3 linked regions of the Homo sapiens genome follow. Each later gene encodes a partner of the first gene's protein in a complex. Each region holds a gene or a part of one and is shown in the gene's direction. Other genes may lie near its edges.

Region 1 (4,074 bases):
GAATAGCGTGAGTCAAGAGAATCCCCTCACTCAGACACCCAGGTTCGGGTCCCAACTTTGTCGCCGTGTGACCTTGGGCAAATGACCTCACCTCTGAGCCTCAACGTCTTCTTCTGCAAAATGGGTTAGTGATCCTGACTATGGGGCTGTTGATTCAGGATTCGGCGGGAACGCCCAGCACTTCCTGAGTACACAAGAGTGCTGAGAAAATGGTAGCTGTTTTTTGCGATTACTGACTCGGGGCCCGACCAGCTCTGGCACGACTCAGCGGAGGTGGGAGTCCTGCGGGTCCCATCCCTGCCTCCCGGAGAGCCAGACCCCAGCGATAGAAGGCCCGGGCGTTGCTTGCTCGTCGCCGCTAGTGCCGCCGCGCCCCCTGGCGGCCGTCGGTTGCCATGTCAACGGAGGGTGGCGGGGACCGGGGGAGGCGGAGGCGGGGGCCGTTCTCTCCTCCCAGGGCCGGAGGACGCTCCCTCCGCGCCTCCCGCCTTCGCCTCTGTGGGGGCACTCCGAGCCGGGGAGGAAGGGGCTTTCCGCTGCAGCCGACATGTGGGGGTAAACTGAGGCACGCGGCAGGGCGCCCGCAGCCAGGTGCCGAGCGCGGGGCCCCACCTCCGAAGGCGGAGGAGGGGCCGCGGGCGGTGACGCGCCGAGGGCGGCCGGCGGACAGCGAGCGGGCGGGCGGTGGCGGCGGCGGCAGGTGCGGCCGCGGAGGGTGGGAGGGAGGAGGGCGGGGGCGGGCGGAGGAGGAGGGGAGGGCGAGGCCGGGCACCTCCCCCTTTATAACGCGCCCCCTCCTGGGCTCTCGGGCCGTCTCCTAGTCGGCTCTTCCCGTCTCGCCCCCTCGCCCGGCCGCCCCGGGCCCGGGTCCGGCCAGGGAGCTCCCAGGCCGCGGCTCGGGGGCTGACCCCCCGCCCGCCGCCCCGCGCAGCCCGGCGGAGGCGGCGCCGTCGGAGGAGGAGGAGCAGGGCACTGCGGCTGGCCCCGGATCGGGCGCCAGAGCGGCAGCAGCTTCGGCAGCAGCGGCGGCCCGGGCCCATGCAGCGGGACGCGCCACCCCGAGCCCCAGCTCCGGCGCCCCGGCTCCCCGCGCCCCCGATCGGGGCCGCCGCTAGTAGTGGCGGCGGCGGAGGCGGGGGCAGCGGCGGCGGCGGCGGAGGCGCCTCTGCAGCTCCGGCTCCCCCTGGCCTCTCGGGAACTACAAGTCCCAGGGGGCCTGGCGGTGGGCGGCGGGCGGAAGAGGCGGGGTCGGCGCCGCGAGGCCGGAAGTGGCCGTGGAGGCGGAAGTGGCGCGGCCGCGGAGGGGCCTGGAGTGCGGCGGCGGCGGGACCCGGAGCAGGAGCGGCGGCAGCAGCGACTGGGGGCGGCGGCGGCGCGTTGGAGGCGGCCATGGCAAAGCAGTACGACTCGGTGGAGTGCCCTTTTTGTGATGAAGTTTCCAAATACGAGAAGCTCGCCAAGATCGGCCAAGGCACCTTCGGGTAAGGCTGGGCCCCTCGGGGCCGGGAGCCCTGGGCCTGCACCCCTAGGGCCGACGTCGGGATGCCCGGGCCCCCCCCGAGTTGGTAGAGAAGTCGTCTGTCCCCGGGCTTGCCTGCTGGTCTCTAGGCCGCGCCGCACCCCGCCCCGGCCTGACGGAGCCGGCTGGTGGGGAGGAGCCTGAGGCCCGTGGTGGGGGCGGGGAGGGGCTGCAGAGAGGCGCCCGTGAGGGGAGCGGGATCTCTCCAAGGGACGCCCAAGTGAGGAGAAGGGACTGAGGGAAGGAAGCAGAGGCTCCGAACGAGACAGGCTGCCGGGTGGCGGGGTAGCCGCGTGCCCTGGGTACCTAGCCCAGCCCCGCCCGGGAATCTCTTTGCTGCTGCCCCTCCTCCTGTAGTGGGGGAGGGGCGGGCCCTGCGGAAATGGCCTGATGAGTTCTCGGGTCTCCCTTTCCGCCTGCAGGGAGGTGTTCAAGGCCAGGCACCGCAAGACCGGCCAGAAGGTGGCTCTGAAGAAGGTGCTGATGGAAAACGAGAAGGAGGGGGTGAGTACGGATCGGGCGTGCGGGCCGGCCGGCTAACTGCCCGGGACCCCGGGTCGGTTTTCCACCCTGCTGCTTCTGGGAGTCTCAGGTTGAGATTTAATTTTTTTGTAGTAGTTCAGAAATTTCCAGGGAATGTGGCTTCCACCCTAAAACTAAATGTTTCATTCTTAGGCAGTTATGGGTGAGGCCAGGAGGGGGAGTTGATGCATGCATCGTGTGCACTTTATTTCACGAAGTTAGGAAGCCTTTAAACACCTTTTTTTAGTGTTAAATTTCGCTTAATGTAAAAGAAAGATTATATATGCATGCTTTTTGAAAGGTGTCTGATACTCAATTATTTAATGTATTTAAAAGGAGCGGTCCCTTCTCCACCCCATCTTAGCTCTAGTACAACTTCCCATAAACCTTCTTTTGCGTAATGTGCATTAGCAAGGACATTTTTAAATCATCATGTTTGTTGCCAACGAAACAGCCATAGAGCTGAAATTTGAAGACTGAAACCGCCGAGCGTTTAGTGGCTAATAGCAAAGTATTGCTGTTTCAGTTTGTTGTCTCAAACCATCATCTTGAAGTGTGCATGCTACTAATATCCATTTTATAGACAAGGCTTCTGAGACAGCTGGTTTCAGAGCCCATGATCTTGCTCTGTCTCCCAACTTGGCTGTCAGTACAGACCCCAGGGCTGGGCTCTGTACTGCGCTCACTCTTGACCACTTTCCCCTCTTTCTCACCCAGTTCCCCATTACAGCCTTGCGGGAGATCAAGATCCTTCAGCTTCTAAAACACGAGAATGTGGTCAACTTGATTGAGATTTGTCGAACCAAAGGTAAGTTATTTGGTTCTTACGAGAAGATGACACTTGTAGCCTAAGGTTTTGTTTGTAAACTTGGAACTAGGCACACCTAAACTGCCTCTTCTTAACTCAGATGGACCCATGGTGACTGCTTTTTCTGGTCCTCTTTCATCGTAGCTGGTGCTTCCTCGGGGCCTGCCCTGGCCCAGAAGAGGCACTCAGAAAATATTTGACCGGTGAAGGAAGGAACAGACAGATGCTCTGGAGGGCATGGGTGCCCGTGGGTTGGAGCAGGAAGAAAGAAGCTGGTTGTGGGAAAGTGTGTTGGGTGTGGTTTTCTTGACTTTTTCTTCTTTCTATTCCTGCCTCAGCTTCCCCCTATAACCGCTGCAAGGGTAGTATATACCTGGTGTTCGACTTCTGCGAGCATGACCTTGCTGGGCTGTTGAGCAATGTTTTGGTCAAGTTCACGCTGTCTGAGATCAAGAGGGTGATGCAGATGCTGCTTAACGGCCTCTACTACATCCACAGAAACAAGGTGGGGGCCAGAGCTGGGAGGAGGACCCAGGCTTGGGCTGGTCTTGGCTCCCACTCCCGGGTGGATGTCACTAAAGGACCCACTCTTGCCCTTCCTGCAGATCCTGCATAGGGACATGAAGGCTGCTAATGTGCTTATCACTCGTGATGGGGTCCTGAAGCTGGCAGACTTTGGGCTGGCCCGGGCCTTCAGCCTGGCCAAGAACAGCCAGCCCAACCGCTACACCAACCGTGTGGTGACACTCTGGTACCGGCCCCCGGAGCTGTTGCTCGGTGAGGACTCCCGAGCGGGCCAAGGGGGGTGAGGGCCAGGCATCTACCTGGCCCCTTCCCCCCAACTGCCAGGGCTTCTTGAGCTGCCGGCCCTGGGGCATTGAGCCTCAGGAGGCCCTCGGGCTCAAGGGGCCCTCCTGGTGCGCTCTTCTTCCCAGGGGAGCGGGACTACGGCCCCCCCATTGACCTGTGGGGTGCTGGGTGCATCATGGCAGAGATGTGGACCCGCAGCCCCATCATGCAGGGCAACACGGAGCAGCACCAACTCGCCCTCATCAGTCAGCTCTGCGGCTCCATCACCCCTGAGGTACGGGGCCCCGGTCCCCACGGGGTGCAGAGATCGAGGTCCCCCGGCAGAGGAGGAGTGGGGAGTAGAATGGAAGGAGCGCTCCTCTCTGGAAGGGAGGCTGGTTTGGTGACAGGGCCTGTCTTGGGGTGGGGAGTGTGT
Region 2 (3,723 bases), on another chromosome or scaffold:
ACTTACCCTCATTGTTAAGGGATGCATGAATGTATTTTCTACTAGTAAAATGGATTTTCATAGTTTCATTATATCCTACATTTGTTTGCTATACATTTGAGCTCATCGAGGGCAGTAAATATTCTATTCATGTCTGTATCCCTGATACATAATATAGTACTGGATTACAGTAGACACTCAAATGTTGAATGAATAGCTCACATGACAAAATTACAAGTATCAGTATTTTGAAGTGGTCTGGAAAGAACATGGGGTTCTACAGAGACTTCTGAGTTTTCAGTCACCTGGACAAATTTGAGAACCACTATTTTTGCCCTGCTAATTTAATGTCTGTATCTCCTTTCAGAGCTGAGGGCAGCAGTAAAATCCAGGCCCGAATGGAACAGCAGCCCACTCGTCCTCCACAGACGTCACAGCCACCACCACCTCCACCACCTATGCCATTCAGAGCTCCAACGAAGCCTCCAGTTGGACCCAAAACTTCTCCCTTGAAAGATAACCCCTCACCTGAACCTCAGTTGGATGACATCAAAAGAGGTAGAGAACATTTTCTGGATCCATGATAGCAACTTGGAGTAGAGTGCTGAATTTTCTTGTGGAGATCACATGGCTGCTGTATTGATACAGTGGCTGGGGCATTCAATGCCATCAAAAAAATGTCTGCAGAGCTCACTGTTCAGAGATGGGGAGGGTGGGGGCTTCTGCCACTTACCTCATTTGACAAGGGTGAGTCCTGGAATAGTGACTTGAGTTTGTGGCTATCTTTGTAGCCATTCTGCTTAGAGGCCTAGGATTTAAACAAGCATGACTTCCATCTAAGCTCCATATGGCACACCTCTAAGGCTTCGGAGAAAGAAAGGATTCTAGGTGTTGGAGGTGAAAACTAAGCGTAGGTGGCAACCTTTCTGAGCTCTACATTAGTATATAGGCTGGAGGAGCTGACCATGGTGCTGCACACTTGTAGTTTCAGCTACTGTGAGGCAGGAGGATCGCTTGAAGTTGGGAGTTTGAGGCTACAGTGTGCTATGATCGTGCCTGTTGGTAGCTACTGAACTCCAGCCTGGGCAATAACATCTCTTTTTTGGGGGGAAAAAAAGGATTAAAATGCCTTTTAAAATACCATAAGCAAATGTCCTGTGCTAACACAAAGTGTGTAAATATGAAAGAGGCCATGAGGACCAATAGAAACAGATACTGGCCTAGAAAGAGTTAAAGGTCCAGTTTGGTTCTCTCCACTGCAAACCTGAGACAAAAAAGCTTACCTTGGCTTTCTCCTTCACACGATGAATGGTTTTAGTCCTCCAGACTCTTTAGAAGTTGTGAGGTCATATTTCATATTTATAAGTTTTATAAAATAACTAAATCCATAATAATAGTAGGGAAACATAAAGAGTTGTCCCTGGGAAATTTGCCTTTTCCACCCTGTAGAACGGCTGCAGACATCACTCTGCACTGTGTACAGTTGTTTTGTCCCTTTTTTTTTTTCCTCATGGATACTGGAATGCTGTTATGGAAGTTTTCACTTAGGTTGAATAGGAATCAGAGCATGAGTGGTTAGTTGTTGCCAATTATGCTTAAAGGAGCCATAGCCATTTAAGGCCACATGGTATGCCTAGACAGGAAAATCTGGCGCCTTTCTTGAAATGGTTAGTTAACATTGATATTTTATATCTGTAAAAAATGCAGTACCTGACAGGCATGGCTGTCAGTCAAATATGTAAAGAGTGAAGAGGAAGAATATTGTTTTACCATTTTTATTTAGTCACCATGGTTCTTCCTGCAAACCTCCATTTATTTATGGGACATGAGAGCTGGAAAGGACCTTAGAGGCTGTCTGGTTTTCATTTTTCCAGAGTGGCTTGGAAAATTCATTGACTTCTACCTAGGTGTCACTGCTGGTTAGAGGTAAATCCAAAACAAGCACTCAGACCTCCCAACTCCTAGTCAAATATTTTTCAACCACTTTACATAATATTTGTCTTCTCTTATGTGGGAATTATGGTTTTATCCCATAGTTCATAATATTCATAATTTTTCTTTTAGTAGATAAAGGCAAATGGACTTAATTCATTTCTTACACAGAACAGCCATTATTCTGAAACAGTCTTGCTTTTTATTTATTTTGAGTGAATTTAATGTTTCCATTGTGTCTCTGGAAACAGGCTGTGTTTTTGTTTTGGTAATTTTGTTTGTACATTTTTTAAGGTATTGAGAAGTAGGACTTTGTTTTAAATTATTTCTTATTGCTGTTGGTTTTGCTGATTTACTATTTATAGAAGCTCCAATGCACTGCCTTGAAAAGGGCTGCTGTGCTGATCCATGTCATATCCTTTATTCCAGAGCTGAGGGCTGAAGTTGACATTATTGAACAAATGAGCAGCAGCAGTGGGAGCAGCTCTTCAGACTCTGAGAGCTCTTCGGGAAGTGATGACGATAGCTCCAGCAGTGGAGGCGAGGACAATGGCCCAGCCTCTCCTCCGCAGCCTTCACACCAGCAGCCCTACAACAGTAGGCCTGCCGTTGCCAATGGAACCAGCCGGCCACAAGGAAGCAACCAGCTCATGAACACCCTCAGTAAGTGTGTACTCCTTTTTATGGCTGAGAGAGGGCCATAGGTGCAGCTTCTATTTATCCTGTGCCAGAACTTACAAACCTAAAGATGTTTAAGGCATGGGAGAGGATCTTGTTAAAAATAGTTTGGAGCAGAAAGGTGTGAGTTACTAAACAGTAAAAAAGGGAAATGAGATGAAAAATCTGTTCTTTCTATTTCTATTCCCCACTGGCTCATACCGGTGTTTGTGAATTCTAGAAAACACTAAAACATGAACAGATAGGCTGTTTTTGCTTTTATACCAGACTTTCGGGGAGCTACCTGCCACCATACTGCTCTCTGCCCATTGGTCTTTTTTCTGGAGACAGAGTCTCACTCTGTCGCCCAGGCTGGAGTGCAATGGTGCAATCTCGGCTTACTGCAACCTCCACCTCTCGGGTTCAAGCGATTCTCCTGCTTCAGCCTCCCAAGTACCTGGGATTACAAGCATGTCCCACCACACCTGGCTAATTTTTGTATTTTTAGTAGAGATGGGGTTTTGCCATGTTGGCCAGGCTGGTCTCCAACTCCTGGCCTCAAATGATCTGCCTGCCTCGGCCTCCCAAAGTGCTGGGATTATGGGTGTGAACCACCATGCCTGCCTATCTTGAACTTTTATAAAAAAGAATCCACTGTCCCCAGACAGTGTGGTGGCTTTTTTTTTTTTTTTTTTCCTTCAGACAGAGTCTTGATCTGTTGTCCAGGCTGGAGTGCAGCGGCATGATCCTTTTTTTTTTTTTTGGTAGAGACAGGGTTTCGCCACATTGCCCAGGCTGGTCTCAAACTCCTAGACTCAAGTGATCCACCCACCTCGGCTTCCCAAAGTGCCGAGATTATAGGCATGAGCCACCATACCCAGCCATTTTTAAAATTTTCTGTAGAGACAAGGTCTCACTGTTTTGCCCAGGCTGGTCTTGAACTCCTCCTGGGTACAAGTAATTTCCCCAACTGCCGAAGTGCTGTGATTAAAAGCATGAACCACCATGCCTGGCCTCGGTGTGTTTTAATGCAGTTGATACTAAAGTAAAACAGGAAAACAAGAACAAAAATTTATTTGTTTTGAAGGTGAACAGAGGGCTAATTTTCTATGCTTTTCTCTTTTTGGAACCCTGATGAATGTTCTCTCTTGGTAC
Region 3 (3,723 bases), on another chromosome or scaffold:
CTCAGAGAACAATAATACATTGTAATTTTTAGATGTATTCCATTCTAATTAAGAGTACAGATATCATTAAGAATATCTTGCACAAATCTCTTATCAACTGTAATTTGGAGTCCTTAGGTAACTATTTTGGGGTATCTTACTTGTTTCAGTCAACACATCTGAAAAATTTACTTACCAGCCAAGTAGACCCACTTTGTTTGGTTATAATCATGCTCCTGACTCTCCAGCTTACCAGGGCTTCAACTAAGTGCTCCACATCTAACCGTTTTAGAGCTAGCCCAGACATGTCTTCATCTACGTGTTGTGCATTCTTGATTTTCTGTAGATTACTTTAGTCTTTGGGAGAGGTAAAAAACCCACAAACAACTGTTCCTTTATTTTACATTTATAATTTTCCCTCCATACCTTCAGAAATCTCTAACCTACCCATCTTTTATGGCATTTTCAATTACCTAATTTATCTTATACTCCTCCTAGTGCTCATTTAGTAAATCTCTAATGATTAACTTTAATATGATACACCACTTAGCCTTTTTAGAGGTCATCCTTTTCTAACCTGATCTAACAGTACTATTTTATTATTTTTGTAATATTTGATAAAATTATTATGATAAATCCATTAAAATTTAATGTACTTTTATAAACTCCAAAGACAAACATACACAAATAATTGTTTAGAAATACATATATGTGGGATAAAGCAAAAGAATGACAAACGTAAAATTCCTTCAGGTTTGATGGAGCAGGGACAAAAGATAGGGGAGGAGCATGTAAGTAGATGTAGTTTATTAGTAATGATCTAGGTTTCTTTTATTGCCAACAGAATTGTATAATGAATTACATGTACCCATCACTGAGCTTTAACAATTATCAACATTTTGCTAATCTTTTTATTTTTTAATCTAATGTCTTACCATTTTTTTCCTTGGCATATTTTATAGCAAATCCCAGACAATGTGCCATTTCATCAATGCTTACTTATGTATCTCTAACTGATAAGGACATTTCTATCTAAGCACCATGCTATTATCACAAATAACATAATTGATAATACTTCGTCCATAGTCACAATTTTGTGATGATCTCAAAAACGTGTTTTTTACAGACATTTGTCTGTAAAATGTCCTAACTAGAATCCAAATAAGATTTCTACATTGTATTTGAATATTGTATTTCTTGTCTCTTTTATTCTTTAAAAGTCCCTTCCTTTCTTCTCCACCCCTTTTTTAATTTATCTTTTTTAGAGACAGGGTCTCACTGTGTTGCCCAGGTTGGAGTGCAGTGGCTATTCACGGGTGTGATTATGTCACACTGAAGCCTAGAACTCCTGGCTTCAAGCTGTCCTCCTGCTTCAGCACCCATCCTCCACAAGTAGCTGGTACTACAGTGCCTGCACCTGGCTCTCTTCTCTTTTTTATGCCATTGGTTTGTTGGAAAAACCGTACTATCTGTCCTAGAGAATATACCTACATTCTGGACTTCAAATTACTTCTATCTGGATGTATTTAACTTGTTCCTCTATTCCTTCTATTTTCTATATATTGGTAGTTATATATCTAAGGGCAGGCTGGATTACAGATTCTTTGGGGTTTGATAAGAATTAAATTCTTTGGGGTTTTTGTGTGGTTTTTGGCAAGAGTATTTTATGGATGGCGCAGTGTACTTTCATATGACATCATTAAGCACATAATGTCTGCTTATCTTACTTTTAATTATGCTAAATTTAATTAGTGGGTTTAGTGTAAGAGGTGTTCCTTAATATGCATAGGGAGGTACTGCTTTAAGAAAATGCCAGATTTTAAAAATTAAACTTATAAAGCAATAAGAAAGAAGATGAGGAGGCTGGGCACAGTGGCTTCTGCCTGTAATCACAGCACTTTGGGAGACTGAGATGGGTGGATCACTTGAGGTCAGGAGTTCGAGACCAGCCTGACCAACATGGTGAAACCCCGTCTCTACTAAAAATATAAAAATTAGCTGGGCGTGGTTGTCCATGCCTATAGTCCCAACTGCTCTGGAGGCTGAGGCAGGAGAATCACTTGAATCCAGGAGGTGGAGGTTGCAGTGAGCCGAGATCGTGCCACTGCACTCCAGCCCGGGCAACAGAGCAAGACTCTGTCTCAAAAAAAAAAAAAAAAAAAGGAGGAATAGAAAATATGATTCAAGGCTCTGTTTCCTTATCCATAAAATATATTGGTTGTGTTCGAATTGAATCTCAATTACTCATTATAGGCCAAAGAAACAAATCTTTACTGTCCCAAGGTGAGTACCTCCTGTCTTCCCTTTCCTCAATGACAGCAGCTTTGAGATTTCAGCCTATCTTCATCTGTCTTTTTTACTACACTCTTTGGATTCAGGGTAGTAAATTTAGGTAGTTTATGGGTGACTTGAAGTATAACATAGAAGGAGAAACCCAGAATCAAGATTTCAAAGGCCTTCCCAAGTGAATTCCTATGATAAATTTTAAGTAATAATAATTAACTTTTTAAACAGGGTTCAACTCCACCAGTAACTGTTTTCAAAGGTTCAAAAAAACCTTACTTAAAAGAATGCATTTTGATTATTAACCATGATACTGGAGAATGTCGGCTAGAAAAACTCAGCAGCAACATCACTGTAAAAAAAACAAGGTATGTGGTTTAATGAAATAAATTATATTATAAACATAAATTTCTAAGGAAATGTCAATAAAAAATTTATTAAGTCACATTATAATATAGGAGTTATTTCTGTGTGGTACAAAAATGTTTTAATCTTTTTCTAAGTTTAAATTTGGTGGAGATCCTAAGCAAAAAGCGTTTTACCACATTACCCTGTGATATATAAAAGCTTGTTTTGCTTCTAAATGCTTTCTATAGGTATAGGTACACTTTTTATCCTATTGTAGATACTTCTGTATAACTGGATTGAAGGAAGCCATTATACATTCTCTAAAATAATTTCATCTTCATTAGTAAAAATTTATTGAGTACCTAGGATGTGTAAGGTACTAGAAAAAGGAAAGTTTGCTCTGCAAACACCTCAAAACTTCTGCATTTTATTCAGATAAACAGACTATTCCATTTAAAAAGTCAATAGGAGAATATACCCATCTCAAATCCTTTTTGGAAATAGGTAACACATTACTTACCCTGTAATATAAGGATGTTTGCTCTAAAAGCCATGCAAATAGTATAGACAAAAATTGCTCTAGGAATTAAGAAAAAGGAGAAGTAATGGTAGATTGGAAAATTCAGGGAGGCCTTTTTGATGTACCTTAAGAGGAGGTTAGGATCATAAGAATTACCTTGGGTGCTTGTTAAAAATTAGTTCCCGAATCCAACCTTAAATCAGGGAAGGATCCTGGGAAACTCTATTTTTTAATATCCCCTCACCCCTACCATCCATGCCCTGCTGTGATTCACACCAGAAGAAAGTTTGTGCAATACCGATTTAATTGATTAGAGAGGAGATGAGAATGTAAGACAAGTTTGATATCTGATTTATTCAGGGCCAATGAGTAAGACCTACTTGAACGGAGCAGAGGTTTGTCTCTGTACCTGTGTATACGTTTTGGAAAGTAGGGGGCGATGTTGATATTGGGCTAGAGGTAAGGTTGTAATTTTGTTGGTTGAGGTTAGTGCCATCAATATTAACTAAGAAATTAGGACATTATCTTGCTGGTAGTCGTTACATATTAAAGTCTTTTTAACCAGGGATTGGCATGTTTACAGTTTTGTTTTA

The links.
Region 2: CDK9 (region 1) and EAF1 share a complex: the UniProt entries of both Homo sapiens proteins name them as parts of the super elongation complex.
Region 3: CDK9 (region 1) and EAF2 share a complex: the UniProt entries of both Homo sapiens proteins name them as parts of the super elongation complex.

The regions. Positions count from the first base shown.
Region 1 is NC_000009.12:127,784,760-127,788,833, forward strand, and holds the start of CDK9 (cyclin-dependent kinase 9), read left to right. Parts: upstream 1-1,274; 5' UTR 1,275-1,389; coding exon 1,390-1,481; intron 1,482-1,941; coding exon 1,942-2,023; intron 2,024-2,758; coding exon 2,759-2,849; intron 2,850-3,187; coding exon 3,188-3,354; intron 3,355-3,454; coding exon 3,455-3,626; intron 3,627-3,784; coding exon 3,785-3,933; intron 3,934-4,074. UniProt on the Homo sapiens protein: Protein kinase involved in the regulation of transcription.
Region 2 is NC_000003.12:15,434,002-15,437,724, forward strand, and holds part of EAF1 (ELL-associated factor 1), read left to right. Parts: intron 1-346; coding exon 347-537; intron 538-2,340; coding exon 2,341-2,574; intron 2,575-3,723. UniProt on the Homo sapiens protein: Acts as a transcriptional transactivator of ELL and ELL2 elongation activities.
Region 3 is NC_000003.12:121,852,194-121,855,916, forward strand, and holds part of EAF2 (ELL-associated factor 2), read left to right. Parts: intron 1-2,493; coding exon 2,494-2,630; intron 2,631-3,723. UniProt on the Homo sapiens protein: Acts as a transcriptional transactivator of TCEA1 elongation activity. Acts as a transcriptional transactivator of ELL and ELL2 elongation activities. Potent inducer of apoptosis in prostatic and non-prostatic cell lines.